Homo sapiens: one gene and its partners. The protein of the gene in region 1 interacts with the protein of each later gene in a pairwise test. Each region holds a gene or a part of one and is shown in the gene's direction. Other genes may lie near its edges.

Region 1 (7,146 bases):
GTTGCTAGAGGAATGTCTACTGAGTGTCAGGTGCAACGGGAGGAGCCAGTGGCTTGTTCAGATTTGGGGCTGGAGGAGGCTGGCTTGAGGGGAAGGATCTCCAGCTGTTGTCAGAGGAAGCGACGCCCTCATTGGCCTGCCGCCCTCCCCCTCCTCCAGTGCTTGCAGCCACACTCAGAAGCCGCCCAGCTGGCAGCGGGAGGGCCCTTTCCTCTTTCAGGGTGAAAAAAAAGGAAAGGACATTTTTGGTAGAAAAGTTCCCTGCTGCTCCCTGGGAATCCCCGGTGGCCGGATGGACTACGGGATATCCCAGAGGAAGCCGAAAGCCACCCCCGACCCCCCTCCACCCTGCCCCCAGCACAATGCTGCGAGGCTCTCCCACGTTGCACCAGCTGGCCAAGGGGGCTCCCAGAGGTCATCTCGTCCAAGCCCCTGTCTGCTGGTGGGCCTGCAGGGAGCCTCTGCGACCTCTCTCGTGACCAACAGCAAGTCTGAGGGGCACCTGTTTAGAGCCCAGGCCCAGCTCTGCAATGAAAGCAGAAAAGAGACAAAGCAAGATGGGAGGACTGTGGGGGCTTAGCAAGGGGGACTAACATAGCCTGGAAAGAGGGCGGGGCACTGGACCTAGGGGCTGAGGACTTAGATTCCAGGCAGAGGATGCAGAGGTTGAGCAAAGGCTGAGAGGTGACAGGGAAATGATGAATTGGGAAGTCAGAGCCCAGATGATAAGGCCTTGACCGCCAGCTCCCCTATGCCCTTGTCCCTGGCAGGGTATCCTCAGGTCCGAGCCCCTGGACAGCAGCCCCAGGCCCAGCTGGCCATGGCCCTGTGCCTGAAGCAGGTGTTCGCCAAGGACAAGACGTTCCGGCCGCGGAAGCGCTTTGAGCCGGGCACACAGCGCTTTGAGCTGTACAAGAAGGCACAGGCCTCTCTCAAGTCGGGCCTGGACCTGCGCAGTGTGGTGAGGCTACCACCCGGGGAGAACATCGACGACTGGATCGCCGTGCACGTGGTGGACTTCTTCAACCGCATCAACCTCATCTACGGCACTATGGCGGAGCGCTGCAGTGAGACCAGCTGCCCGGTCATGGCCGGCGGGCCCCGCTACGAGTACCGCTGGCAGGACGAGCGCCAGTACCGGCGGCCCGCCAAGCTCTCTGCGCCGCGCTATATGGCATTGCTCATGGACTGGATCGAAGGCCTCATCAACGACGAAGAGGTCTTTCCCACGCGTGTTGGTGAGTGTCACCTGGCGGGGAGGGAGCCACTGGGAGCCCATTCCACAGATGAGGATTTAGTTTGATATAGACACTCTGCAGGGTTGGGGGTTGATTTTCATCCCCATTTTGTGGAAGAGGAAAGCGAGGTTGAAACAGGTTAAGTGCCTTGCTCAAGGTCAAGCATTTGCTAGGACTTCCTGACTCCCAATTTGGGGCTTTTCTTTCTTTTCTTTTTCTTTCTTTCTTTCTTTTTTTTTTTTTTTCTTTTCTGAGACAGAGTTTCGGTCTTTCACCCAGTGGTGAGATCTCAGCTTACTGCAACCTCTGCCCCCCGGGTTCAAGCGATTCTCCTGCCTCAGCCTTCTGAGTAGCTGGGATTATAGGCACCCACCACCACGCCTGGCTAATTTTTGTATTTTTAGTAGAGACAGGGTTTCACCACATTGGCCAGGCTGATCTCGAACACCTGACCTCAGGTGATCCACCCACCTCAGAGGGCTTTTCTTTTCTAAAGCATAAGTGGTCCCACCAAGGACCACTCTGGCAAGACCACAGATGCTGTGATTCTCAGAACCTTCCAGAACAGTTGCCCCGAGGTGTTCATAGCTGATTTGACCTCCAGCCTCCCGGGGTTCCCTCTGACTCCTGGCCTCAGGAAAAGGAGGGAGTTGGTGGTTGGGTGGGCCCTGGTGGTATCATCACCTCAGATTGGGGCTCTGAGGACAGAATTTTCCCTTGCCAGGCACAGGCTGTGGGGCCTTTTCTTATCTCAGCTGGGCAGCCTGGGCGGGTGAGGGTAGGGAGGGGAGATGAGTGATGTCACCCAGGCACTGCTTACCCACCCGAGGGCAGCAGGAGGGGGTTGTTGGTCCAGGAGCTGAGCAGGCATGACACTGTGTTCATCACACCAGCCGCACCTGTAGCTGGGCCCAGCCCCCACCTGGCCTGGAGCTCATCTCTGCAGAGGCTGTGTGGATCAGCGGTGGGTGGGGCAGGGTGGTCAAGCCCTGAGGGGAGAAGTCTGAATGCTGAAGGAAGCTGGGCACTGAGTCACAATTCAATGCCCACGGCTCCTCCCCAGCCAGTGGCCTGCTGTTTCTTGCACTGTCATGCCCGACAAGGAGCACCTTCATTTTACATAGGAGGAAACTTGAGGCTACTGAGGGAAAGTGCACTGAACTGGGAGGAATTCCGAACTGGGGCTCAGATCTGTGGGAGCCCAGGACCCCAAGTCTACATGGGCAGGATATGTCTGAGGAATCTGGGCTGGGCTGGAGGGGCTCAGAGGGAGGGAAGGCTCGACCCCACCTGGGAATGGTGAGGAAGAGGAGGGGGTCTACAGAGCCGGGTGGGCCAGCTGTGGACCTGAATGTAGATTCATAGTCCCTGCTGGCCATACCTCCCTGGGCCTGTGGGACTCCAGGTATCGATGCCTAAAACCCTGGGTGACTGCCACACAGAGAAGAGGGCATAAGCCACCAAGATCTCTGCCTTGAGCATGGGGGACTATGCAGAAGCGGGGCCTTTTTCATGGGTCCCAATATCTGTGAGGGTCGCTGCAGTGCACTGCAAAGAGGGTCTGAATCCAGTCTCCATTCTGCACTGATTAATACTTATGTGGCCTTGGGCTAGCAGCTTCACCTTTATAAGCACTTCTGTTTTATCATATCTAAAGTGACAATCAGACACATCAGGCGAATTGTTCTAAGGATTAGAGGCAAAAGGTGTGAAGGGCCCAGCACAAGGCCTTGCTCATAAATGGAAGGTTCTTCGTGTTGTTGAATATTTGAAGGAATGAGGGCTGTCTGAACTAACTCTTGCAGAATTCATAATTTCCAGGATTGGGGGTCTGAGGACTTCTGTGTGAATGTTGAAAAGAGGAGGGACATGGGGTGGGGCTAGAGAGGGAGGTCAGGATAAGATCATGAAAGGCCTTGAGCAGCGTCCTGCTGGAAAGTTAGGACTTAATCCTGAAGGCCCAGGGATTTTTTAAATGGACCCAGTTGTTGAACTCTCCTTGGAGTTGTATACAAGAGTGTGATGTGAGCATCTCTGCAATTGCACATATTTCTGGGGAGAGTTTAGGTCGTAACTTTTATCATAGTCTAAAAAGGGTTGGTCAGTGACCCCCACAAGTTTGCAAAGCCCTGCTTTAGGTAATGGGAAAATGTGGAAGATGATGTATATTCCAGCAGGGGAGAGCCACAGTCAGATTTGTGCTTCATTAGAAAGAAAAGTATGGCCAGGCACAGTGGCTCATGCCTGTAATCCCAGCATTTAGGAGGACGAGGCAGGTGGATCACCTGAGGTCAGGAGTTCAAGACCAGCCTGACCAACATGGAGAAACCCTGTCTCTACTAAAAATACAAAATTAGCTGGGCATGATGGCACATGTCTGTAATCCCAGCTACTTGGGAGGCTGAGGCAGGAGAATACCTTGAACCTGGGAGGTGGAGGTTGCAGTGAGCCGAGATCATGCCATTGCACTTGCCTGGGCAAGAGTGAAACTCCGTCTCAAAAAGGAAAGAAAAAAAGAAAGGAAGAAAGAAAGAAAAGTATGGGAGAAAGTCAAACCACTCTCTGTTTTCCAAAGGGAAGTGTACTAAAAAGTGTGCTGGGGAAAAAGCCATCCTGGTTGCCTGTGTGTGGGAGGGAAAAGTTGAGCAGAGCTTTGGCACCAGGATACTGATCCCCTTCTGCCCTCCCCTGCCCTCTAGGAGTTCCCTTCCCTAAGAACTTCCAGCAGGTCTGCACCAAGATCCTGACCCGCCTCTTCCGAGTCTTTGTCCATGTCTACATCCACCACTTCGATAGCATCCTCAGCATGGGGGCAGAGGCGCACGTCAACACCTGCTACAAGCACTTCTACTACTTCATCCGCGAGTTCAGTCTGGTGGACCAGCGGGAGCTGGAGCCACTGGTGAGGCCAAGCCCTACCACCCTCCCCTACCAAGGCTAGCCTCTGAGTTTTCACGTCCAAAAGCTGCCTGCTTTAAGTAACTCCAACGCCCAAGTAGATGAATTAGGGGAAGGCAATTCATTTAACAGTGAATTCTGTACTTCAATAGAGAATTCATTCAAGTGTTGGTTTACAAACCCAGATCTGCAGCCTAAGAGTTGGGGTTGCTGGGGGAAGGCCAGGCTCAGACAGAAGAGCAGCTAGGCCCTATGGTTTGGGAAGGGATTGCCTAGTAGGCTGAGCTCTAATTGACCCCTCCCTACCTTGTGTCTCTACAGAGGGAGATGACAGAGCGGATCTGCCACTGAGCCCAGGTCTGGACTTTTTTGGCCATCAGATGGACGATCTGAACATAGGGTGGCTGGCAGAGGGGACCCCCAGGAGCCTGAAGGAATCTGAAGGCACTGGAATCACTCCACACACCCAAAGCCTCTGGACTTCTGGTTCTCAGGAGTCTGCCTACCTGTCGCCCTGACCGCTTGTGGATGGAGAAGGGGAGAGCATCTAGGCAGGCAAACAGAAGGGAAGTGGAGTTAAACCTCTGGCATGAAGTCTGGGAGTAGGGTAGGCTAGGGGGTTTCTTCTATGACACTTGACCCTTCCATGCTGGTTCCCAAGCCTATTGGAGGAATGTGGGTGTGGCCGAGGTGATGGCAAGAAAGGTGCAAGAAAGTGAGCAGTCTGCCTGTGAGTGAGCACAGATGCCGGGGTGTGTGTGTGTGTGTGTGATTTTCACTGTGGGGTGTGTCTGTGAGAGCTAGCTGCCTTACCCCTCCTTGGCACATAGTAGGCCTTCCATAAATGTTGGATGGATGGATAAATAGATTGGGACCATCAGACCATGGGACCATCAGACCATGACCACTGTAGGAGTGATGACAGCTCAGCGTCCCCACTCAGTGTATCTGACCATGTGTGTAAGTGCACAAAAATGTGGTTGTAGATGTTGCTCTACATTCAAACCTTCCAGGCTACACTCTTCCATCAGCATGAGTCCTGGAGAGCTGGGGGAACGTAGGAAGAGGAGCCTTGCCTTGAGTTCCTAAACCGACCCACTGCAGACACAGGCTCTGATTCTCTTACCCAGAGATGCCCATGAGCTGACATTTTACTCATCCCTCTGCCTCCAAGAAGGCCTGTATTATACGTGTCCTCCTGGGGGTTGGAGATGATCCCTCAAGTACACAAAGGTCCCCTGGCCCTTCATCTGGGAATCATATACTCCACTCTAGCTCCCAGAATCTACAGACCTGGCTCCTCGGATCTGAAGCCCAGCACAAAATAATCTCCCCGTCCAAGGAGCTTGTGGAACTTGAATTGGGAACTTTGGAGTCTTGTCTCCCATCCCAGCACATTGAGGATGTAGTTGGTGAATGGACTCTTCCAGGCATGGAGATCCTCCATCCTAAAAGTACCTGCCTCCTTCCCAGCCATCCCTGACACATTCCAGCCAGTTGGATCTCACAGCACAGCTATCCACAGGGAGACTGGGATGTTCACGCAGCACTCCATTACTCAGTACCTCCATACCCAGCCCTATACGCAGACCCACAGGTGGGGAAACTGAGGCAGGAACAGGGTTCTGCCCTCCCAGAGCCTCCACTCTGGGATGCCAGAATGGAAAGCCAGAGGGAACCTGAGAATCATCCAGTCTTACTGTCTCAATGTACATACGGGGAAACTGAAGCCAGGAGAAGAAGAGGGAGAAACTGTCCAGGGCCTCACAGGGAGGCATTCATGGAGCTGGAGAAACCAGGGATCCTGACCGCAGGGCCCATCAATTGCTACATAGAGATACACATGGAAAGAGGGTTTAACAGACCCTCTCTAGGACACAACTGTTTCTGCTTTGAGCAATAATTTCTAACCTGAGGCCAACATGTCCCACTGCCCCTTGGGTTGGCTGGGGTTGTTTCCTGAGCCAAGCATCCAATATCATGCCCCACTCAATGGCCTAGAAGCTGCCTGTACTTTGGGGAAACAGATGGAGCTCTTGGGCCCAGCCAGCTGGGCCTGGGACTTCTGCCTCTGCCGCCTCCAGAGTGGCCTGGCAGCTTTGCCAGAGGCTGTGGAGCGAGGGTAGTAGGAGCTTTTCCCAGAGTGCTGTGACTTGCATGATGGATTCTAGGCTGTGGCAAGGGCTGATTTCTGGGATAGGGGGAGGGTTGGAAAATTTATTTTTATGAAACAGAGGGAAGACTTTATTGTTGTTATTTTTGGTAAAATAAAAGGCAAACTAAAGCAGCCACTGGTGGGAAGCGGTGATCTGGGTGCCACATGGCTCTTGGCAGACCATGGAAGGAACTGAGCCAGAATGGGGCTGGGAAGGCTTTTTGTCCTGAGATACTGGACCATGTGGAGGGCTGGCTGGTGTGGTCATGTCTGGCCCAGCTCTCTAGGGTGGGGACACAAAGATTCTCCTGGGGCTCTGGAAATTCTAGACCGAGCTAGGCTAGGACGCTTGGGGTGGAGAAGCCTGGCTTTTCTTTGCCTTCCGGGAACTCAGTCTGATAGGAATCGTTCCTTGTTTCATCTCAGGTTGCCTGGCATTGGCTATTCTTTTTTTTCTTTTTCTTTTTTTTTTTTTTTTTGAGATGGAGTCTTGCTCTGTCACCCAGGTTGGAGTGCAGTGGCGCGATCTTGGCTCACTGCAAGCTCCGCCTCCTGGGTTCATGCCATTCTCCTGCCTCAGCCTCCGGAGTAGCTGGGACTACAGGCACCCACCACCACGCCCAGCTAATTTTTTTGTATTTTTAGTAGAAACGGGGTTTCACCGCGTTAGCCAGGATGGTCTCGATCTCCTGACCTCGTGATCTACCCGCCTCGGCCTCCCAAAGTGCTGGGATTACAGGCATGAGCCACCACGCCTGGCCTGGCATTGGCTATTCTCACTCCAGCCCCTTACTCTGGGTGGTTTTTTTTTGAGGTAGTAGATAAAAGGACAGAGTGGAAATACAATCCCAACAC
Region 2 (7,553 bases), on another chromosome or scaffold:
GTAAATCCTTAAGAAATGCATTTGGGGCTGGGCATGATGGCTCATGCCTGTAATCCCAGCACTTTGTGATGCCAAGGCAGGTGGATTGCTTGAGCTCAGGAGTTCAAGACTAGCCTGGGCAACATGACAAAACCCTGTCTGTACAAGAAATACAGAAAATTAGCCAGGCATGTTGGTGTGGACCTGTGGTCCTAGCTACTTGGGAGGCTGAAGTGGGAGGATCACCTGAGCCTGGGGAGGTCGAGGCTGCAGTGAGCTGAGATTGTACCACTGCACTCTAGCATGGGCAACAGGGTGACCTTGTCTCAAAAAAAGAAAGGATTTGGGTTGATTAGTAAAAACCATTTTTCTTATAAACTACATGTTAAAAACTGATTTTGTTCTTTTCTTAATTCTTTTTTTTGTCTTCCTCCAGGGCTCCCTTAAGGAAAAGACAGTTGAAAATCTTGAGAAGTATGTAGTCAAAGATGTAAGTAATATAGGGGAAAATAGATCTGCATAATAGCTCATTTTACCTATTAGGGAAATTAATAACAAGCTGATTTATAATGAAATGGACAAAAGAAGAGATTTGTCTTGGCATAGTATGTGTCGGGTATAATCACCAAGAATATTCAGCTAGAGCATAGGTCTTAGTAGAGTTTTTCCTGTTTCTTGATAGGCAAGAAGACTCAGTATTTCATTTTTCCTGTTTCTTGATAGGCAAGAAGACTCAGTATTGCATTTGTTCGCTTAGCTTCAATTATAATAGCAGTTAGAGGTTTACTGTATGCACATCATCACCATGCTAAGTGATTACATGCATTATGCCATTTAATCTTCTGTATGACCTTGAGTTAGGTATTATTGTTGCCTCTGTTTTATAGATAAAAAACCTGAGAAATAGAGGGATTAAATAACTTGCCAGAGGTCACACAGTTAGTAAGTAGTAAAGCTAAGTCACACCCAAATCATAACTACTGCACTAGATCATCTCAAAAATGTGCATATATGTTACTGTTATTTAAAATGCCTTTAACCTGTCAACAGAGAGTAATGAGGAAAGCTTTAAAGTACCTTAAAAGGCATTAGTGGCAAACCTGATAAAATTTTTTAAAAAATCTGTGGTTAATAGTATTGTACCAATGTTAATTTCATACTTTTCATAATTATACTGTGGTTATATAAGATGTTAATATTAAGGGAAACTGGAGGAAGAATATATGGGAACTCTTTATTTTCACAGCTTTTCTATAAGTCTAGAACTGTTTTAGAATAAAAATTAAACACACATAGTGCCCCAAGATGACATACTTCTTTCTTTTCCTACAGAGTAAAAGTAGCAGAATACAGTATTTTCTCAAAGTACTGTGGTAAAGATTTCTTGTTTTCAGTTTTTGTGCTTCCTATTTTCACCCACCTCCCTTATTTCAAGAAAGAACACTGAATGGGGAGGGTCCGGGAGAATTTGAGTGAAGGAATCTATTTGCTATGCGAGAAGGAAAAGATATTTTTCTTTCCAGGCACATGAGGGGTTAGAATTTCCTCATTTAAGCGCACGTGGGTGTGGGTATTTCTAGGTAGCATCTGCACATGTCATTTCATTCTGCAAGGTGTTTTATAAAACCATAGTGTACACACTGAAAGCCATATCTAATAATCTCTATGTAGAGCATGTTTAAATCAGCTTCTGCTGACCTTTAACACACCTCACATACTTCAAGAAATCTCAAGGTAATTTAAACTCTTTCCTGAGGCAGACATCATGAGGAAGGTAGAGATATGTTGTTAACAGCCATATAACCCCTATAAATATGTGTATAATTTTACATGTAAATCTATTACATACACTGTGTATACTACATATGTTAATACTTTATTCATTTATAGTGATAATGTGGGCTTTTAAGTGCAAAATTCTGAAATCAGCTAACCCTTAAAAGGTTCCCCCATTCCTGTTGTGGACAGAAATCCAGTATTTGACAACTCCAAAGTGTAAAGATAAAAATGTTTTCGTGTTTCACTCATTATCCAATTACATTTCAGGGAAAACTGCCTTTGCTTCTGAGCCGGATGAAGGAAGTAGGGAAAGTATTTCTTGCTACCAACAGTGACTATAAATATACAGATGTAAGTGCTTCATGTGTATATTTATTTATGCAGTGGAATTATTTTGGCCTAAAGAACTGTGAAGACAATGAGGAAGATAGAAGTTTATTAAGTGAAAATAGTTTCTTGCCTTCTCATTTTCAAAGAGTAAAAAGGCAAAAATATACAGGATAACAGTGGTTCTCAAATTTTTCTAGAAATTTATTTTAACCATTTTCACTGATTATAATTGGCTACTTGAAAATTTTAATCTTGGGGTTATTTAAAACATTTGTAAAGATTAAAATGGCTTTTGTGTCTCTTTGGAGCATCATTTCTATAAACTTGAGCAGTCACACCCCTTATTGATGTGTATGTATGACTTTCCCTGCTGTTGGAAGACCTGCAGCAATAGATGCTGCACAGATGTTTTGGCTCTTAGCTGTCAAAATTTATATATCTTTTTTTTTTTTTTTTTTTTTTTTTTGAGACAGAGTCTCACTCTGTCGCCCAGGCTGGGGTGCAGTGGTGCGATCTCGGCTCACTGCAACCTCTGCCGCCTGGGTTCAAGCAATTCTCCTGCCTCAGCCTCCCAAGTAGCTGGGATTACAGGCACCTGCCACTGCGCCTGGCTAATTTTTTTGTATTTTTAGTAGAGACGAGGTTTTAACATCTTGGACAGGCTGGTCTTGAACTCCTGACCTCGTGATCCACCCACCTTGGCCTCCCAAAGTGCTGGGATTACAGGCGTGAGTCACTGTGCCCAGCCCAAAATTTACTACCTCTTAAAAACAGTTTTTTCCCATGATTAAAGCATGTGGAAAAACTGATCTAACTCCTTAACTTCATCTTACTTTTGCTGAGACACTTAAAAATTTATAGTACTGGCAAGAAGTTCCACTTCCCCCAATTCGCTGTACATGTAAACTTGATTTAGACACCTGGTGATTTGTAGTAAACAGTCTTACATAAACCGTTGGTTTGTTGACTTAGTTGGTCTAGGGATGGCAGTAGCGAAGCCAAGGTGATAGGTTATTTCTGTGTGAGTCATTAGTTTTCTCTATACCCCTACCTCATATGCTCCTTTCCTCCAAATGTGTGTTCAAAAACATCTTCCAGAGGAAGTATGTATCCTCCCTGAGAATGTCAGAAGCCTTTTTTTCTTTTTGGTATATGGTAAAGCATTAATTTCTGGCTTCCACTGCCATGATTTCATAAAATTTAGAGGAAACAAGAATGTGGTGAGTCCTATGTTGAAAAAGACATGTTTTGTGAAAAGCTTGTAATTTCTTTAGGTTATATACCTTTTGCAAAAGTAGTATATGGACCTTATGTTAAATTTTTTTTTCCAGAAAATTATGACTTACCTGTTTGACTTCCCACATGGCCCCAAGGTACCGTATGTGACTCAATAGACCACTGCTTTAATAACAATGAATGCATTTAATCATTCTGGAATATTAAGGGGGAAAGAATTGGTCAGAACCCACCCAGAAAAGTCCTACTTTTTAAGCCTATTGTCTAATCTTCATTAACATTAGAAGTAATCCAGGAGCTAGTAGAATTTAAAATCAAATTGCTAATTTAGAGTCCGCAACTTGAATACTTAATAGACAGAAATAAAAGGGATATTCATGTGATATTTAGTAGGATGGGATCAGAATAATTTTATGCCCAAGAAGTTCTATGCAAAATTAAGTTTGTGTGGCAATGAAAGGAATTTTCAGGTTGTGGATGATATTTGATTAACAGAAACAGAAAATGTATGTGTATTCTTGACAACTTCTAGATTTTGTATTAGTTGTTGCTAAGTTTTTGCCAAGAGAGCACTCAGCCTTGATATTTAGCAGAGAAGTCTTCATTTCTGCAGTACGGCTGCACTTAGGTTTAAGGAATACTCCTTGCAACTTAGTCACATACTTACAGAATTTTAGTCCTAGACTTTAGTGAATAAACATCAGCAAATCCCTGTTTTGAGAACACCTGAAATCACAGTGTGCAGTGCCCTTCAGGTTGGTCTTAAAAGGTTAATGCCAGGGTTCCATTTCAGGATAGTCATGATTTTAATGGGCATAACTCAGTATTGTGATTAGCTTACACTGTGAGCCAAAAGCCAGTGTGTACCTAGAGCCATCATTCTGAGAATGTAACCAGTAAAATTTCCTAATAGTTCCATGTTAGTTTGTATACTTTAGCTCTGATGCCTGCCTCTGTCTTAATCTGTCCCTTGGGTATTGATTTGCATCTCTCCCTAGCTCTTTTGAGCTCCTTTTAGCAAATTTCAGGTGAGCACACTTTCATAAAGTGCTGTAAAATAAGTATTGTAATTTAGTAGTAGATGAAATGATTTAATGTATAGAATGTGTTATTACAGTTATTTATTATTTATATCTTGTCTGCTTCCCAAAGGATATGGCTTATAATACATAGACACAATTTTTTTTTTTTTTTTGAGATGGAGTCTTGCTCTGTTGCCAAGCTGGAGTGCAGTGGCACGATCTCGGCTCACTGCAACCTCCCCCTCCTAGGTTCAAGCGATTCTCGAGCCTCAGCCTCCCAAGTAGCTGGGACTACAGGCGCCCGCCACCACGCCCGGCTAATTTTTGTAGTTTTAGTAGAGACAGGTTTTCACCATGTTGGCCAGGATGGTCTTGATTTCCGGACCTTGTGATCTGCCCGCCTCGGCCTCCCAAAGTACTGGGATTACAGGTGTGAGCCACTGTGCCTGGCTGACACAATACCTTTTTAAAAAATAAAATAGTGGGATCTTCTGGCTATACTTAGTATTTTTATATTCCTTGCATCTGAGTGAGATTAAATAGTAATGCCTTAAGGTAAGGAGTGATGTTTCAACTTTTGCTGTTTCTCCTTCACCAGCCTGGGAGCTCCCATCGACCATGGCAGTCCTACTTTGACTTGATCTTGGTGGATGCACGGAAACCACTCTTTTTTGGAGAAGGCACAGTACTGCGTCAGGTGGATACTGTAAGTCATGAGAATGATCTGTCTTGCTAGCACATTGTCCTTAATGTTTCTCCTTCCCCCACTCTTACTCTACATAAGGAAACAGGAATTTTTTTTTTTTAATTAGCCGTATCTCTCTTTTGAAATTAAGAGTTTTGGTCTTAACTGAAACAGTCAAACAAACCCACTAATTGAAAAGAGTAAGTGCCATTCATTTGGCTGTCTGGCCAAGTAGCACTGGTGGTGGGGGGTGGGATGGGAGGGTTGTGGGGTGAGGGGAGGATTGTGATAGGATGATAAAGTATTACAAAATCCATATTCTTCATACAGAAAACTGGCAAGCTGAAAATTGGTACCTACACAGGGCCCCTACAGCATGGTATCGTCTACTCAGGAGGTAAGTCACAGACTTCCCTTTATTTAATGTCTTTGCTCAGACCTCACAGTGAAAGCTTTGGTAATCTCTCAGCAAAGTGCCACATATACTGTTTAGTAGTCTAAGATGTCATCTACTGAAGGTAAATAGTTTAGTCACCTCTTAATGCAATAGGAGTCTGGGTTTGAGCAGTTGTTAGTATATCCTAATGAATCTGATTTTCACTAAAATGATCAGTTTTTTTTTTAAATCCTATTGGAGGCTTTTTCTCAGTGCTTCGAATCACTTGGGGGTACTTCTCAATATGTTCTCAAGGGTTTCTCAAGGAGTTCCATGGGTATAGGTACATAGTATGTTGGAGTTATAAACAGTTGAGTAAAGCCAGCTTAATGGCAGATTTGTGATGAAATTGGCAGTGGCTGTTTTGAAGGTTATTTTCACTAAGCTGAGGATGTAGTTTTGTTGCTCTTGGATTTGGTGAGCAAGAGCTCTGGTCAGCACAGTGGAGCTGAAGGCCTTGTCTTAGAAGGCAGTAAAAAGAGAATGGTGAGTCTTTGTCTATTCTTCCTAGTCTGTTCCTCATATAAGAATAAAATGAATCATAGTATTTAATGGTTAAATACTATTGGAATGCTGATTTTAATATAGGGACAGTTTTCTCATTGTTCACTCTGTTGGTTCAGGTTCTTCTGATACGATCTGTGACCTGTTGGGAGCCAAGGGAAAAGACATTTTGTATATTGGAGATCACATTTTTGGGGACATTTTAAAATCAAAGAAACGGCAAGGGTGGCGAACTTTTTTGGTGATTCCTGAACTCGCACAGGAGCTACATGTCTGGACTGACAAGAGTTGTAAGCCATTCATAAATCTTTGGTGTAATTTATATCTAAATGACCAGCTTTGAATCAGTCGTCTTTGATAAACCATTACTTTGTATTCAGGAAGTCAGAGGTGGTCAAAAGGCAGGCCTTGATATTTGGATACTTCCTTCCCATAGAATATTCAGATATTTCACAGAACTCCAGAATTTGAATAAATATGAGAGGTTATCTTGTTTAACCTTCTTGAATCTCTTCGAGGTTAAGTTTAGAATGTTGGCGTCTTGAGTTGTGTTACAGTAACACTAAGTTGTGAACTGGAGCTCAACTTTTCCTCTGTGGTCCCATATTTCCCCAACCATGCCTAGCAGTCCCAGTCTCTCTGCTAACAGCCCATATCTGTGATTCTGGGGCAGTGATGGCTCTGAATGTTAATCACCTCTGGTATTTTTTATTTACTCTTCTGAGATCTAGAGAATGAGGCCATATTGTATTCTTGAACTAAGCTATGCTGTGTATATGCAGTATACACACTGTGCTGAACTGAGTTACGGATATAGTTCTGTAAAAGTGCTTGATATACAAGTTCTCCAGCCAGCCTTGATGCGCATTACCTGCAGTGTGGTGAAGGTGACTCCGGAAACTCAGCCTGCCTGGGGTAGGAGCCCTGGCTCCATAACTTGAAATCTGCATGCCGTTAGGCAAGTTAATGAGATACCCTGTGCCTTAGTTTCCTCAAATGTAAAAATGGGGATAATACCTACCTCCTAAAGCTGATGAAAAACGGAGGTAATATGTGTATAAAGATAGACATGACAGCCTTTCTCAACCAAGGCTCCATATCCGAAACACAGAAAATTATTACTATTATTTTACCTTTCCAATGGAGCTGAATACAGAAAATTATTTGAGTAACACTTTTCTCAATTCTCCTAAAGATGGTAGATAGAAGAAAATGTGTTACATACAGTAGATGAAGGAGGGCTTGTCTTGAGGAACCCAGACTGACAAAGGCTGCAACACACCGGCAGCATGCTGTAGATGCTGGCTGTTGCTGTTACTGTCTGTACTATCAGTGGGATTTTCTGGCTAGCCTTTCATTCACATTTTCAACTTTCTACCTATGAAGTTTTAGAAATCTAGTTGATTTGGCCCTGGACCTGTGACTCAGGAAAAGTCACCTGATTCTCAATCTTTCATCTGAAAATGGGACTGTTAACATTTGCTTAGCTGACTGCACCTGAGACAGCATGTAAATTCTGGTACTTTACAAGCTCAGAATGAGCGTGCAGCTGGAAGGGAAAGTTGTCATCATGGTGTTTAAG
Region 3 (7,553 bases), on another chromosome or scaffold:
TTATAAAATTAAAAATTAATCCACTTAGCTTATTGAGTTAGGTACCAATCACAGTCTCCAATTACAGCAGCAATCTTTTAGGATTTTTTTCCTCTCTCACCAAGTTGCCTTTTCCCTCTGTTCTTGCACCATTATCATGGGGCTTCATGGCCTGTTACAGGCTGAGAGAGCTGGAATAACACGGATTTTGTTTACAGGGCAGAACCATTATTTTCCAGTTGGGGCTACTCATTATATTGATATCATCCAAGGAAGTGTAGTATATCCAACGAAACTTAGTGTTCTTTTTTTTTTTGGAGACGGAGTCTCACTCTGCCTCCAGGCTGGAGTGCAGTGGCACGATCTCAGCTCACTGTAATCTCCACCTCCCAGGTTCAAGCCTTTCTCCTGCCTCAGCCTCCCGAGTAGCTGGGATTACAGGCATGTGCCACCACGCCCAGCTAATTTTTGTATTTTTAGTAGAGACGGGGTTTCACCATATTGGCCAGGATGGTCTCAATCTCCTGACCTCGGCCTCCCAAAGTGCTAGGATTACAGGCGTGATCCCCCGCACCTGGTCAACTTAGTGTTCTTATGCTTACTATTCTCAGAGAGGAAAATCATGCTCTAATAATAATTTTAGGAAACACTTGATTTCAGGAGACAAGATTTTGTTGATGCTTTCTCTTCTGTCCTATCCTCCTGGTGTCATGATGGAGATTTTAGCCCTGTTTTATTTTCCTTGTTTAAAAACGTAGCCGTTCTGAGAGGTAGCGTGATCTAACCCGGGTCATCTAAGTCTGCACTAGAATGCAGAGTAGCATATGAGGAGGGGGCTTAACACACAAAGGGGGCTGCTGCAGAAACCATTTAATTTTTCAGAATGACTTAAAGAATTTATATATTTTAAAAATTATAAAAAGCTGTCCGGGCATGGTGGCACACGCCTGTAATCTCAAGCACTTTGGGAGGCCAACACTGCTTAAGTTCAGTTGTTTGAGACCAGCCTGGGCAACATAGTGAGACCCCATCTCTACAAAACACACAAAGATTAGTTGGGCATGGTGGCATGTGCTGGTAGTCCCAGGTACTCGGGAGGTTCAGGTGGGATTGCTTGAGACTGGAGGTTGAGGCTGCAGTGAGCTATGATGGTGCCCCTGCATTCCATCCAGCCTGGGTGACAGAGTGAGACCCTCAAAAAAAAAATTTATAAAAGCTTACTATAGTCAATTGATTGCATTTAAAGCTTTTGTTTTTTTTTTTTTTTTTTTTTTTTGGACTTCAGCTGATTTGTTACGTCTGTCTTGTTTTAAAAGGAATGCAGTCTGCCTGGAGCCTCACCTTTCATTACAACAGAACTTTGTAACCAATAGTGTTTCAAAACCTTCTATCTGGAAGACTTTATCAGGGCTTTGGCCTTGAAAGGAATGTCTTCCTACTAATGTTTGTTAAACAAGTGGTGTGTGAAGGAGTGTAATCTTTCTGGGTTTATTGGCAAAGGAGAACACTCCCTCTGTGTGTTCCTGGTCTTCAGTGCATTGAAACTTCTTTTCACAGGGGTTGTATTTGTGTATATTTCATATATACATATAAATCCTTTTACAGGGAATGAAAAAGACTCGAGTAGATGCAAAAAAAATTGGTCCTCTTAAACTGGCTGCCCTAAATGGACTCTCCCTATCTCGAGTGCCTCTGCCTGATGAAGGAAAGGAAGTGGCTACCAGAGCAACGAATGATGAAAGGGTATGTATGGGACACACAGGGCTTTGTGCCTTCTCTGGAACAACCGGTAAATACTACGCAAATGCCTTCATGAGATTTTGGTGAATTTTCTAACACAATTTAATAATAAATGAGTGTTAAGGAATTTTGTAATATGGGCCTCAAAATTGGGGCAAATGTATAGCTAATGTCTTAATAGATAATTTCAGGTTCGAATGCTGATTTTTTGTTTGTTTGTTTCTCAGTGTTCTTTTTTACCTTCTCCTGGCCTTTTGGAGCAGTCTTGATTTTGATGGCCTTAAAGTGAGAAGAAATCTACAAAAATACAGGAGCATACAGGGGAAAAGCAGCAGACATTGACTTTTATTATACTGAAAGTTTATCTCGAGAGTAGTTTCTCAATTTTTCAAAACTTCCTTTGTGCCTGAGGTGTATTTTCTATGAGGTTTTATTACATCAAAATCAGATAGGCATACATTTGCTTTACAACGGGATCCTGGAGGTAGTTTCGAATATTTCCTACTGCTTTAGTCTTTTATATATCGTATGACATAAAATGGAAACATTTGTTCATAGCTGTTGGAACTCATTATCCGTCCCCTAGATTTACTTACTGTTCCCCAGGAGAATTCCATCTATTAGGGGTCACAAAATTGACCACAGATCTAGAGAAAATGAATTCAACAAATTTCTTTAGGCCAATTTTCAACTTTAAACAAAAGTTTGCATTATATTTCTCACCAAAATGATTGTCTTTTGTTCTTTTAACTCTTGTTGTTGTGGCTTTTTAAAATTTTAACTTCATTTTCACCTAGAATTTTGTTTCTGTTTTGGTTTTGGTTTGGTTTTTTTGAGATAGGTTCTCATGGTTCACTGCAGCCTCAACCTCCTGGGCTCAAGCAATCCTCCTGCCTCATCCTCCCAAGTAGATGGGACCACAGGCATGCACCACCACACCTGGCTCGTTTTTTAATTTTTTGCAGAGACGGGGTCTCACTGTGTTTCTCAGGCTGGTCCTGAACTCCTAGGCTCAAGTGATCCTCCCTCCTTGGCCTCCCAAAGTGCAGGGATTACAGGCATGAGACACCGTGCCCAACCTAGAATTTTCAATATTATACAGTGCTAGATTTGAAGCAGAAAACAAGATTTCAAATATACAGTCAAAAGGTAGCCACGACGTGTGGCTGTATTCATGTTATTACACATATTCTGTTTTATAGTGTAAAATTCTGGAACAACGATTAGAACAAGGAATGGTATTCACAGAATATGAAAGAATTCTTAAGAAACGGCTAGTTGATGGGGAGTGCTCAACAGCACGACTCCCTGAAAATGCAGAAAGAAATCGATTCCAAGATGTTCTTCCTTATGATGATGTGAGAGTGGAGTTGGTCCCAACTAAAGAAAACAACACTGGTTACATCAACGCATCACATATTAAGGTGAGAGGAACGCCTCAAGTAATCAACAGCACATGCAGTTTCAGTTAAGTTACAAGAATGGTAAGAATTGTATTCATGTCTGTTTAGAATTCAGATATTTTAAAATTTATTTTTATTGTATTGTTTTAGATAAACACCCTAGTTTTAAACATTTGTGACAAACTGTACTGCAAGCTGGGAAATCCACATACCAGTGCTAGATAAAAAGCGTCTATCAGACAGAGCCAAAGTCATGTCTACTCTCCATGTGCGAAACCACTCTGCCCCCAACACTGTTACCAGGACTCAGGGCGCACTTATTTGCCCGGCTTTTTTTTTTTTCTTTTGCCTTTTTTGAGATAGAGTCTTGCTCTGTCGCCCAGACAGGTGGAGTGCAGTGGTATGATCATGGCTCCCTACAGCCTTGACCTTGTGTTGCCTGGCTTTAGAACTTTGTCCTTCTAAATCTGAAGACCTCTTTTTAGCTCATAAATTCTGGGAGCCACTGAATTGCTAGTTTTTCCTCATCACATACTGACATGCATTTTTATGTAACAAAAGTGTCTGGGCTTTTTGATGGTGTTCACAAAAGCTTTCAACTTACCAAGGTGCCATCTGTTCTCTTTACATACTCTTTATAATAATTTTTAAGTATCATTTTTTTTCTTTGAAGAAGTGCTTTTTTCCTGGAACCAGTATAATGCCATTAAACTGGGGTAATGTTTATGGTGAGAGATAGGGGGTCCAGTTTTACTTTTCTGCTTATGGATATCCAGTCTTCCCAGTCCCATGTATTTAAGAGGCTGTCCTTCCCTAGTGTATGTTCTTGGCACCTTATCTGGGGTAATATCACTCCTATGAAAATGGACAAAATGATGATTCACAACACATGATGGAATAAAGCCAGATGTTCCCTCTTCCTCATTGTACCCTTTGTTCATGCTGGCCACATTCAATTCTTTATTTTGGGAAGGAGAAATCTCATGGTGAGTGAATGAGTAACTGTGGACAGGTGGTGGTTTTTTTCTTTAGTTTGCAAGTATTATTTGAGAAGGGAACAAGCTGACACCAAGGCTTTCTGGAGACTGGCAGTCTGCCTGTGAATGCCAGTACCCCTTGATGGCTTTTGGGAATCTATGCACATACTATTTTGTTTTTAAATATAATATCAGCATAATTTACTTAAAAACCGAGCATTTCCTTGAAATAACTCATCCAGTCTCTCATGACTAGATGGATAAGAATGAATGATACTGTAGTTCTGTAGTGATATTTCAAAATCTTCAGCAGCCACTTGCAGAATAGAGGAAAGAATTTGATAGACCTGGGTCTGACGCCTAGATCTAAAATGAGGTGGGACCTCACTTTATAAGCTGTGTTGTGGGACCTCATCTCACTTACATGGAAATAAATAAATGATGACACCTACCCTGCCAGCTTCTCACTAGTCCCCTCCTCCTCCCTAGTGTTTATTCACTGTTATAACCTGGTACTCATCCACAGTGGCAGCCACTGGGTGCTCAGTGAGACGATGTGGAGCGGTGACTAGGGGGCTGGCAGCCCTGAGTGAGAGTGCGTGTGGCACAAGGCTTGGCACTGGGTTTTACGTTTAGTGAGTGTTTGGAGACAGTTATTGTCGTCACTCAATATTGGTGAAGCCAAGATTTAACCCAGGTCTCTTAACCACAAATCTAGTAATTACTGTTGTATTAGACTGCTCTCAAGGAAGTTAAATCTGAAGTGGAAACTTAATATTATTGTGGAGAGTGACCTTGACTCAGAAGTTCAGAGGTGAGACTATCTTAAGTAGGAAGGTTTTTTTTAAAGAAGAGGCACCATGTCTGCAATAACAGCTACTTATTGAGTTATGTGCCAGGTACCATAGATACTGACTCAGTCCTCACAATGACCCTATGACGGTAGGCAGTATCTTTATTGTATAAATGAGAACTGACATTCAGCAAGGTTAAACAGGTTGCATAGATATTATGTATATTCACAGTACCTAAGTTTATAAAAATGTCAGTAATGCAAATTGTATTCACAAGGGAAAAGATGAAAAGTCTTTCCTTATTCTGCTGAATAATCCAGTTTACTACTTTTTTACTTTTTACTTTTTTAAAAAAACTTTTTTAGTACTACCATGAATGCATGCATACATACCTATGTATATTATACCCACACATCAATTTTTTTAACCTTTTCTAATCCCAGGTCTCTGTCAGTGGAATCGAATGGGATTATATTGCCACACAGGGACCATTACAGAATACCTGTCAAGATTTTTGGCAGATGGTATGGGAACAGGGAATTGCAATTATAGCAATGGTGACAGCAGAAGAGGTAGGTACTTATTTCTCTTAAGTGATTTTCTCAGCCTCTGAAGAACAGTTAATGTTAATCATCTGGAATCCTGACCTGTGGAGAAAAAGGCAGGGTAGGGTTGTGGTTCTGTTTCAGATGTGCCGTCTATGTGAGAAAGGCATCCATTGCCGGATCTCGAGTCATTTAACCATGCTCATCTTTAACAGGAGGGTGGAAGGGAGAAGAGCTTTAGGTACTGGCCACGACTTGGTTCCAGGCACAACACTGTCACCTATGGAAGGTTTAAGATCACGACCCGGTTCCGCACAGACTCTGGCTGCTATGCCACCACAGGCCTGAAGATGAAGCACCTCCTTACTGGGCAAGAGAGGACCGTCTGGCACCTCCAATACACAGACTGGCCTGAACATGGCTGTCCAGAAGACCTCAAGGGATTTTTATGTGAGTGACTTTAACTTTGTTCCGAGGACAGCTGCCTCTGGAGGTGTTAAACAGAGAGGAACATTTATGTTTCCGAAATATTTCCTTTATGTTATCTCATATAAGCTTCGGACTTGTTTTAACATAAAGAATACAAGTGTTTTGGGGAGGGTTAACGAGGTTTATAAATTATGATTTGGTAGTGAGTAGAATGCCACAGCTGACTCAGTATCTCCGTCATTTCATTTTGTAGATCAGAAAGTGGACAGAGGTAGTGACTTGCTCAGGGTCACACTGTCCCTTTGTGGTTGGGTTTGGTTCACTGGCACCCAGTGCTCTTTATCTGCAGTCCTCTTAATCAGTGGAGAGAATATGAAGATTGAGTCAACAATGTGATACGCCTTGATCCTTGAGTACTTTTCTATTTCATTGATTTTCCACAGCATATCTTGAAGAGATCCAGTCTGTTCGACGCCATACAAATAGCACAAGTGATCCCCAAAGCCCCAACCCTCCGTTGTTGGTCCACTGCAGTGCTGGGGTAGGAAGGACTGGCGTGGTGATTTTGTCGGAGATCATGATCGCCTGCCTGGAACACAATGAGGTGATGGCGCTTATGATCACCTGGCCTTTTTGGGTGGAAATGAGGCTGGGGAAGAGAGGGACATAGTGACTTAATAGCTCTTTTTGCGCACATTTCCTTGGACTGTGGTGGCCTCAAGATGTTACTAATGTTCCCTGCAAAAGGCTGTGTCTTCTTGGAGAGTCTCAGTACCAATTAGCATATTAAAGACTAAGAAGTCATACGATAAATAAAGCTGTTTAATTTTGTTTTACTTGCCCAGGGTTTTTCAAATTTGAGCTCAGAATTCTTTTTCTGTTTACATTTCAAGGATGATTCATGCTGCCCAGAGCCCTTGAGGGAAATAGCTAGATACTGATAGCACTTAGCACACTATGTTTTTGTATAATTTTGGTATTTAGTGAGACATGGTAATTATGTCCAACCATACAAAGTCAGTGAGCTACACCTGGGGAATGTTGAAGAAATAGTCTGCATGGACATTCTATTTATAGCTAAAACTAATCAGAAAATCAGAAGTAGGCAATCATGGCTTATTTCTAGAAGACGCTAAGGTGGAAAAGAGACTGTCCATCTCCCAACCAGGTTTCTGCCAGGACACTCGTGTCCTCCCATCCTTTCTGTCTCCCCAGGGGAACACATTATCTTCATTACCGTTTCTCTCAACCTAGGTGCTGGACATCCCGAGAGTGCTGGACATGCTGAGGCAACAGAGAATGATGCTGGTGCAGACTCTCTGCCAGTACACATTTGTGTACAGAGTCCTCATCCAGTTCCTGAAAAGCTCCAGGCTCATCTAAGCTCCCACAATTTCTTACGGGGCCAGTCATGTGAAGCGTTTACAGCTTAAAAAAAAAGCGCTTGCCTAACTCATACTTTCCCGTTGACACTTGATCCACGCAGCGTGGCACTGGGACGTAAGTGGCGCAGTCTGAATGGCGGCACGCTGAAGGAAACGTGCGAAGCACAGGCTGAAGAGGGGTTTCTAACCTGGGAAAGGTGCTCAAGGAGGACTTGGTTTCAAGGGCCTTGCCCTGCCCCGGTCTGTCCGGTTTGCAGTACTTGCACACATTTTGGAGATTGTATTTTCTAGACAATTCTCT
Region 4 (7,553 bases), on another chromosome or scaffold:
CCTCTCTCTTTCTTGCACTCTCCCTTGCTTTCTCTTTCTCTCTTCCATATTTAGGCCTGTGTGCACACATCCATGCATGTTCATGTTAGCAGATAATGTAGAAGGCTACCAGTATGTTTATCCCAATAGGTATGTTCTCTTTATATGTATCTACATATGTGTTGTGTCTCTGTGTGTGTTTATCTACATGTATTTTTATTTCACCTATATATTTGTGTAGAAGATTGTGGGGAGGAGGGATTTTTTTAAAAAAGACATTCATATCTTCCTTTAGGTATGTTATCTGATTTTGAAAAACATTATGAAAGCCTCAAAAAGCATTTTTACAAAGCAATTTATCAGAAAATTAAAACAAATATACTGAGAATAAGTTGATCACTTAACTGTCAATGAATATCAAATAGTAAACACGTGATTGGAATCAGATCAGTAGGAGACTTTCTAGAGTAATCAAATTTTTGCTGAATTTAGAAAGTCTAAGAGGCCCAATTCTTCCCTACTAAGATTGTGACCACCAATTGGCTGTGTAGGTGCTGGTTAAGGACATGGACGCTTACTGTCTATGATCCCAGTTCCACACTAGCAGCTATGTAACCTTAGACAACTAACATAACCTCTTTTGTACCTCAGTTGCCTCATCTGAAAAAATCATGATATTAGCACCTACTTCATATAGTTGTTGTGAGGATTAAATGAAATTATTCATTTCAAGTGCACAGAATAAAGCCTGGCACATAGTAAGTACTCAATTAATATTATTAGCTGCTATGATGATTACTAATATTATCATTAGATTCAAGGACAATTCCAGTTACCTTTCCTGCAGATCCTGAACCGGCTGGGGGCTCCAGAGAGGAACAGTAGGGAAGAATGTCTGTCCTGAACATCTGTCCCTTCTGCAGCCCCCATTTTCCTCTCCGCCCTGGCGCACCCAGCCTCAGCCCTGCTTCCTGTGGACGTCAGGCAGTGATGCTCTTGCCCTCAGGCCTAGATAAAGGTAGGGTAGGCAAGGCCCAGCCACTGAGCTCACAGAAGGCAGCACCAGGCATCCAGACTGGCGGGGGCACAAGGTATGGTGCCCAGCATACAACACTGCTTTGTACATGGCTATGAAGGAAATGTTTGTGAAATTTAACTGAATTTTTTTAAAAGATTAGGCAATGGACAGTAGATATCTCCAGCTCCAGCTTTACCTGCCCTCTTGTTCTCTCCTCCAAGGTAGCGGGGACTCATCTCTGGAGAAGGAGTTCCTCGGGGCCCCAGTGGGGCCCTCGGTGAGCACCCCCAACAGCCAGCACTCTTCTCCTAGCCGCTCACTCAGTGGTAAGTGTAACCTCCTACCACCTCCTGGCAGTAGGCACCCCCTGTTGCATTTGGCCTTCAATTCACCTTCCACTGGCAACCATTTCCCCATCGTCACCTCCTGCTGGTCTCCTGCTTAGTCTCTAAGAGCAATGAGGAGCCCAGTGTCTAGGGTTTTTCTGGCTTCTGAAAGGAGAGTGAATAGTCAGTCACTGGCAGACTAGGGTGGAATTAAAAGAGGTATGGGTGGGATTAAGGTAAAAGTTTCAAAGAGAAATTATGGAATTAGAGAAGCAGGTAGATAGAAATGGTCATCAGATGGAGTTAGATAGGAAATAGAGAGTAGAAGGACCTCCCCATCTCCCCACAGCTCATTCTCCTACCCAGACAGGGTCCCCATGACTGCCTCTCCCCAGCTGGCCCTAGATCTGTGACATTCTCTAAATGGTTGGAGTAGCCAGGAATGTAGGTCGGAGCTAGAGCCAAAGCCTTCTCCTCAATGGTTCCTCCTTCCTTTACCCCTCCTGCCCTGCCTCAGAGTTTTATGGAGGTGGAGGGGGTAGAGGGATTCAATCTAATGAGGTGGGAGGGAACTGTAAGCATGTCTGTCTTCCAGGTTTGCTCTCTTTGGCCTGTTGTCCCCCTTCAGTCTTCCTAGATCTGTTTTCCCGCCACTGTTAACTTGCTGGCTTCCTGCCCAGGGCCAAGCCAGACATCTTTCTTCATGACAAGAGAGTAGAGAAAAAAGCTCCCCTTAGTCGCCTCCTCTCCTCAGCGACAGAAGACATCCTATGTACCCCCAACTTTTTTCTTTTTGAGATGGAGTCTTGCTCTGTCGCCCAGGCTGGACTGCAGTGGCGTGATCTCAGCTCACTGCAACCTCCGCCTCCCAAGTTCAAGCGATTCTCCTGCCTCAGCCTCCGAAGTAGCTGGGATTACAGGCGTACACCACCATGCCCAGCTAATTTTTGTATTTTTAGTAAAGACAGGGTTTCACCATGTTGGCCAGGCTGGTCTCAAACTCCTGACCTCAAAAGAATCCACCCGCCTTGGCCTCCCAAATTGCTGGGATTACAGGCGTGAGCCACCACACCCGGCCCAACTTTTTTCTCTTGAAGCCTATTTGCCTGGTGGGTGGGAGAAAAGGTTGTCTCAGGTTCCAGTAGGATTCTGATATCAGCAGCAGGGATACTAGGGTGTTAGTTCCATTTAAGGCTTGAATGTCTCAGGGCCTAAAGACACCCTCTTAAACTTTAAGAGTGCCATTCTGGGCCAGGCGCAGTGGCTCACACCTGTAATCCCAGCACTTTGGGAGGCCAAGGCAGGCAGATCACCTGAGGTTGGAAGTTCGAGACCATCCTGACCAACATGGAGAAACCCTGTCTGTTCTAAAAATACCAAATTAGCTGGGTGTGATGGTACATGCCTGTAATCCCAGCTACTCAGGAGGCTGAGGCAGGAGAATCACTTGAATCTGGGAGGTGGAGGTTGCGTCGAGCCAAATTCGTGCCACTGCACTCCAGCCTGGGCAACAAGAGCGAAATTCCATCTCAAAAAAAAAAAAAAAAAAAGAGTGCCATTCTGGCCTGGGAGCAGCTTCCCCCTTTGCCTCTCTCTATTCTAAACACCATCCCACCCCTCAGCCAACTCCATCAAGGTGGAGATGTACAGCGATGAGGAGTCAAGCAGACTGCTGGGGCCAGATGAGCGGCTCCTGGAAAAGGACGACAGCGTGATTGTGGAAGATTCATTGTCTGAGCCCCTGGGCTACTGTGATGGGAGTGGGCCAGAGCCTCACTCCCCTGGGGGCATCCGGCTGCCCAATGGCAAGCTCAAGTGTGACGTCTGCGGCATGGTCTGTATTGGACCCAACGTGCTCATGGTGCACAAGCGCAGTCACACTGGTAAGTAAGCCAGAGGGGCTCTGGGAGGAGCTCCCAGGGTGGGGTTGAGAGGCAGGGGCAGTGCTGGGACAACAGCAGGTATGGGGCTGGAGGAGGTCATGCAGGGAGTGGGTAGCCTCAGAAAGGGAAGGGTCTCACCCAGCACATTTTCCAGCTGACAAAACGAGGCAGGGTGGGGGTGGGTACAGAATTTGAATTCCCCTCAATACCTTTAGTTTCCTGGCACTCTCCTCAACCGCTGTTATAAAGAAAAGGTGATATTTTTCTCAGTATATGAGGGAGGGGAAAGTGTAGACTCAAGAATGAGCCAATGGTCCAATAGGGGTAAGACTCCTGGGTATTCTTTGGGCCCTCCCATCTAATAATTAAAAAACAACAACAACAACAACAACAACAAAACAGAAAACAAAAGCCTTCTCTTCTCAGCTTCCTTGGGCCTTGGGCTCCTAGGGCAGAGTGGGCCCTGTGGGGCTCAGTTTTTGGTAACAGTCTTTTGGCCTCGTGTTCCAGGCCCCTCTCCCTGCCACACACCTCTAATCCACACCTTCCCCAGGGTAAGACCCCAGGGATCCCCAAGGGATCTTCATAAATCAGGGTTTGTGTGCATTGCACTTCTGCCCGTCAGCAATGTGTTCAGAGCACCTTCCCTTGGGCAAGGTAGGGCAGAGGGTGGGTGATAGGTTCAACCTTCAAAGTTCCTCACATGCAGTCCTCTGGGATTTGTTCTTTCACTTGCAGGTGAAAGGCCCTTCCATTGCAACCAGTGTGGTGCCTCCTTCACCCAGAAGGGGAACCTGCTGCGCCACATCAAGCTGCACTCTGGGGAGAAGCCCTTTAAATGTCCCTTCTGCAACTATGCCTGCCGCCGGCGTGATGCACTCACTGGTCACCTCCGCACACACTCAGGTCAGTGTCTGTCCAGTGGGAGGAGGGAATGAGGCTCCAACACACCCAGTATGTAGAGCTCAGTGACTTCTCTTGTATTTGGGGAGTTCCAGTGTCTGTCATTGAGGAGGGGGGAGCATTTACAGAGCAGATAGGGCCCCCTGCCTCTCTCACCCATCCTCTGGGCAGCAAGGCTTCATGGGAAATTTGGGAGACACCTTGATGGGGTATTTTACATCCACCATATGGATGTAAAATCCATCTACTTGGAGCAAAAGGAATAGGAGCAATGTTCTTGGCTGTTAACGGTCACCCTTGGCCTGGCGCGGTGGCTCACGCCTGTAATCCCAGCACTTTGGGAGGCCAAGATGGGCGGATCACGAGGTCAGGAGATCGAGACCATCCTGGCCAAAATGGTGAAACCCTGTCTCTACTAAAAATACAAAAAAAAAAAAAATTAGCCGGGCATGGTGGCAGGCACCTGTAGTCCCAGCTACTTGGGAGGCTGAGGCTGGAGAATGGCGTGAACCCGGGAGGCGGAGCTTGCAGTGAGCTGAGATCGCGCCATTGCACTCTAGCCTGGGCGACTGAGCGACACTCAGTCTCAAAAAAAAAAAAAAAAAAAAAAAAAAAAAGTCACCCTTCCCTGACTTTTGTTTGTTTTTTGTTTTTTCAAGACGGTGTCTCACACTGTTGCCCAGGCTGGAGTGTAGTGGTGCAATTTTGGCTCCCTGCAGTCTTGATCTCCTGAGCTCAAGCCATCCTCCCACCTCAGCTTCCTGAGTAGCTGGAAGGATACTGCCACACCCAGCTAATTTTTCTATTTTTTTGTAGAGACAGGATCTCCCTATGCTGCCCAGGCTTGTCTTGAACTCTTGATCTCAAGCAATCGGCCCACCTCAGCCTCCTGAAGTACTGGGATTACAGGCGTGGTGTCAGCCACTGTGCCTGGGCTTTCCTGACTTTTATATTTTAGATTGTTGATGCCACAATCCATGCCCTATTACCCCCAACATCTAAGCCCCTGGGAAATCCCTCCTCTCACTCCCATCTGCCTCAGGCCCCACACCTGTCATCATCTTCACCCTCCTTCCTCCCACACCACCAGAGGTCTTGAGCAACCAGTCTGTCCTCTCCTTTACTTCCTTCTGGCTCCTGGAAATATCCATAGCCCTCTCAAATTGCAAAAAAGGGAGCCTAGGACTTCCAAATAGGAAAAGAGTATCCTATTTCTGTTCCCTATCCCAAGAGGTTGTCACCTTCCCAGAGGCAAGAGAAAGTCCAGAGGGTACCTAGAGATCAATGTTTGGAACAGTGCTGGGAAACTGGATTAACAAGGTTTTCTAGCCCAGTCAAGACTGTTTGAATCAGTATCTGTCTGAATCAGCTGGACAGATAGCACTTTTTAGGCATTTTACTAAGCTTTAGGCTTTTGGCTTGGACTTGGGAAGAGGCCAGGAGCTGAGCTGGCAGGAAGGAGGGAGCTCAAGATTGGGAAAAGGCAGGAAGAAAGGAAGGGGGAAAGAATTAGTAGGGTCTGTCCTTGGAAACTTTCCTGGCTATTTTTCTCTTCTTAAACTCTCCTGAGCCAGGATTTAAAGGGACAGAGCAATCATTTCATCACCCTCTACTTTCTCCATCCACTTACCTTGTTCCAGGTTCTCCCACCTTGTAATTGGGACCTCTTTATCTCTATGTATGTGGAGAAACAGGGAGAAAGATCATCGTTGATACATGCTTTATATCTACAGAGCATTTCACTTGTGTTTCTCCATGTGATCCTCATAACAATTCCAAGGTAGATGTGATTATCCCCATTTTGTTGACAAGGAAAATGAAGCTGTTGGGGGGAAAAATGAGTTGCGGGTCACATAGCTATTCTTCAGCCTAGCTGGAACCCCATCAAGGTCCAGTGCCAGAAATACATACTCCTTTTCCTCAGAAAAGGGGCTGCTCCCCCTGCTGGTTTGGAACAAGGATGGCTTGGCCCCTAGAATTCTTACCAACTACACAGTGAGGTGAACTGGGTAGATTTTGGATGTTGATCTGTAGATTATTAACAACAGAAGCAGACACAGATATACTGTCAGGTCCCATCTCTGTGAAGTGCTTTCTGTTGCAACCCCTATTATAAGAAAAAAGAGACTGGATGCATGTTCTCACTCATGTGGGAGCTAAAAAAGTTGATCTCATAGAAGCACGGAGTAGGTTGGGTGCAGTGGCTCACGTCTATCATCCCAGCAGTTTGGGAAGCCAAGGCGGGTGGATCGCTTGAGCCCAGGAGTTTGAGACCAGCCAGAGCAACATAGTGAGACTTCGTCTCTACTACAAAAACAAAAACAAAAACAAAAACAAAAACTAGGTGTGGTGGCACACACCTGTAGTCCCAGCTACTCAGGAGGCTGAGACAGGGAGGATCACTTGAACCTGGGAGGTCAAGACTTCAGTGTCCTGTGATCATGTCATTGCACTCCAGTCTGGGTGACAGAGTGAGACCCCATCTTGGGGAAAAAAAAAAAAAAGCCAGGCACGGTGGCTCACGCCTGTAATCCCAGCACTTTGGGAGGCCAAGGCGGGCAGATCACCTGAGGTCAGGAGTTCAAGACCAGCCTGACCAACATGGAGAAACCCTGTTTCTACTAAAAATACAAAATTAGCCAGGCGTGGTGGCGCATGCCTGTAATCCCTGCTACTCGGGAGGCTGAGACAGGAGAATTCCTTGAGCCCAGGAGGCAGAGGTTGCAGTAAGCCAAGATCGCGCCATTGCACTCCAGCCTGGGCAACAAGGGTGAAACTCCGTCTCAAAAAAAAAAAAAAAGTAGAGAGTAGAACAGTGGTTACCAGAGGCTGACTGAGAAGGGTTGGGAGTAGGTGGATAGCGAGAGGCTGGTTAATGGGTACAAGATTACAGTTAGATGGGAGGCATAAGTTGTAGTGTTCCACAGCATAGTAGAATGACTGTAGTTAACAATAATTTATTGTATATTTCAAAATCGCTAGAAGAGATTATTTTGAATGTTCCCAATACAAAGAAATGATAAATGTTTGCTGGGCATGGTGGCTCACGCCTGTCATCCTAGCCTTTGGGAGGCTGAGGCAGACAGATCATGAGGTCAGGAGATTGAGACCATCCTGGCTAACATGGTGAAACCCGTCTCTACTAAAAATACAAAAAATTAGCTGGGCATGGTGGTGGGCGCCTGTAGTCCCAGCTACTGGGAGGCTGAGGCAGGAGAATCGCTTGAACCCAGGAGGTAGAGGTTGCAGTGAGCCGAGATCGTGCCACTGCACTCCAGCCTAGGCAACAGAGTAAGACTCTGTCTCCAAAAAAAAGAAGAAAAAAAGATAAATGTTTGAGGTGACAGATATGCCAGTTACCCCAACTTGATCATTACATGTCGTATACATGTATGAAAATATCATATGTATCTCATAAACATGTATAATTATTATGTATCAATT

What was found.
Region 2: the proteins of MOB3C (region 1) and NT5C2 interact in binary tests that used the Homo sapiens proteins (3 or more experiments, as listed by UniProt).
Region 3: the proteins of MOB3C (region 1) and PTPN21 interact in binary tests that used the Homo sapiens proteins (3 or more experiments, as listed by UniProt).
Region 4: the proteins of MOB3C (region 1) and IKZF4 interact in binary tests that used the Homo sapiens proteins (3 or more experiments, as listed by UniProt).

What each region holds. Positions count from the first base shown.
Region 1 is NC_000001.11:46,606,996-46,614,141, reverse strand, and holds the end of MOB3C (MOB kinase activator 3C), read left to right. Parts: intron 1-770; 5' UTR 771-820; coding exon 821-1,238; intron 1,239-3,937; coding exon 3,938-4,140; intron 4,141-4,457; coding exon 4,458-4,487; 3' UTR 4,488-6,423; downstream 6,424-7,146. UniProt on the Homo sapiens protein: May regulate the activity of kinases.
Region 2 is NC_000010.11:103,091,847-103,099,399, reverse strand, and holds part of NT5C2 (cytosolic purine 5'-nucleotidase), read left to right. Parts: intron 1-415; coding exon 416-469; intron 470-1,311; exon of another isoform or gene 1,312-1,352; intron 1,353-2,025; coding exon 2,026-2,109; intron 2,110-3,419; coding exon 3,420-3,461; intron 3,462-4,944; coding exon 4,945-5,052; intron 5,053-5,361; coding exon 5,362-5,428; intron 5,429-6,090; coding exon 6,091-6,261; intron 6,262-7,553. UniProt on the Homo sapiens protein: Broad specificity cytosolic 5'-nucleotidase that catalyzes the dephosphorylation of 6-hydroxypurine nucleoside 5'-monophosphates.
Region 3 is NC_000014.9:88,467,834-88,475,386, reverse strand, and holds part of PTPN21 (tyrosine-protein phosphatase non-receptor type 21), read left to right. Parts: intron 1-1,584; coding exon 1,585-1,722; intron 1,723-2,921; coding exon 2,922-3,143; intron 3,144-5,036; exon of another isoform or gene 5,037-5,336; coding exon 5,337-5,465; exon of another isoform or gene 5,466-5,519; coding exon of another isoform or gene 5,520-5,540; intron 5,541-5,653; coding exon 5,654-5,888; intron 5,889-6,310; coding exon 6,311-6,471; intron 6,472-7,121; coding exon 7,122-7,250; 3' UTR 7,251-7,553.
Region 4 is NC_000012.12:56,023,836-56,031,388, forward strand, and holds part of IKZF4 (zinc finger protein Eos), read left to right. Parts: exon of another isoform or gene 1-1,160; coding exon of another isoform or gene 1,161-1,218; coding exon 1,219-1,323; intron 1,324-2,945; coding exon 2,946-3,206; intron 3,207-3,944; coding exon 3,945-4,112; intron 4,113-7,553. UniProt on the Homo sapiens protein: DNA-binding protein that binds to the 5'GGGAATRCC-3' Ikaros-binding sequence. Transcriptional repressor. Interacts with SPI1 and MITF to repress transcription of the CTSK and ACP5 promoters via recruitment of corepressors SIN3A and CTBP2.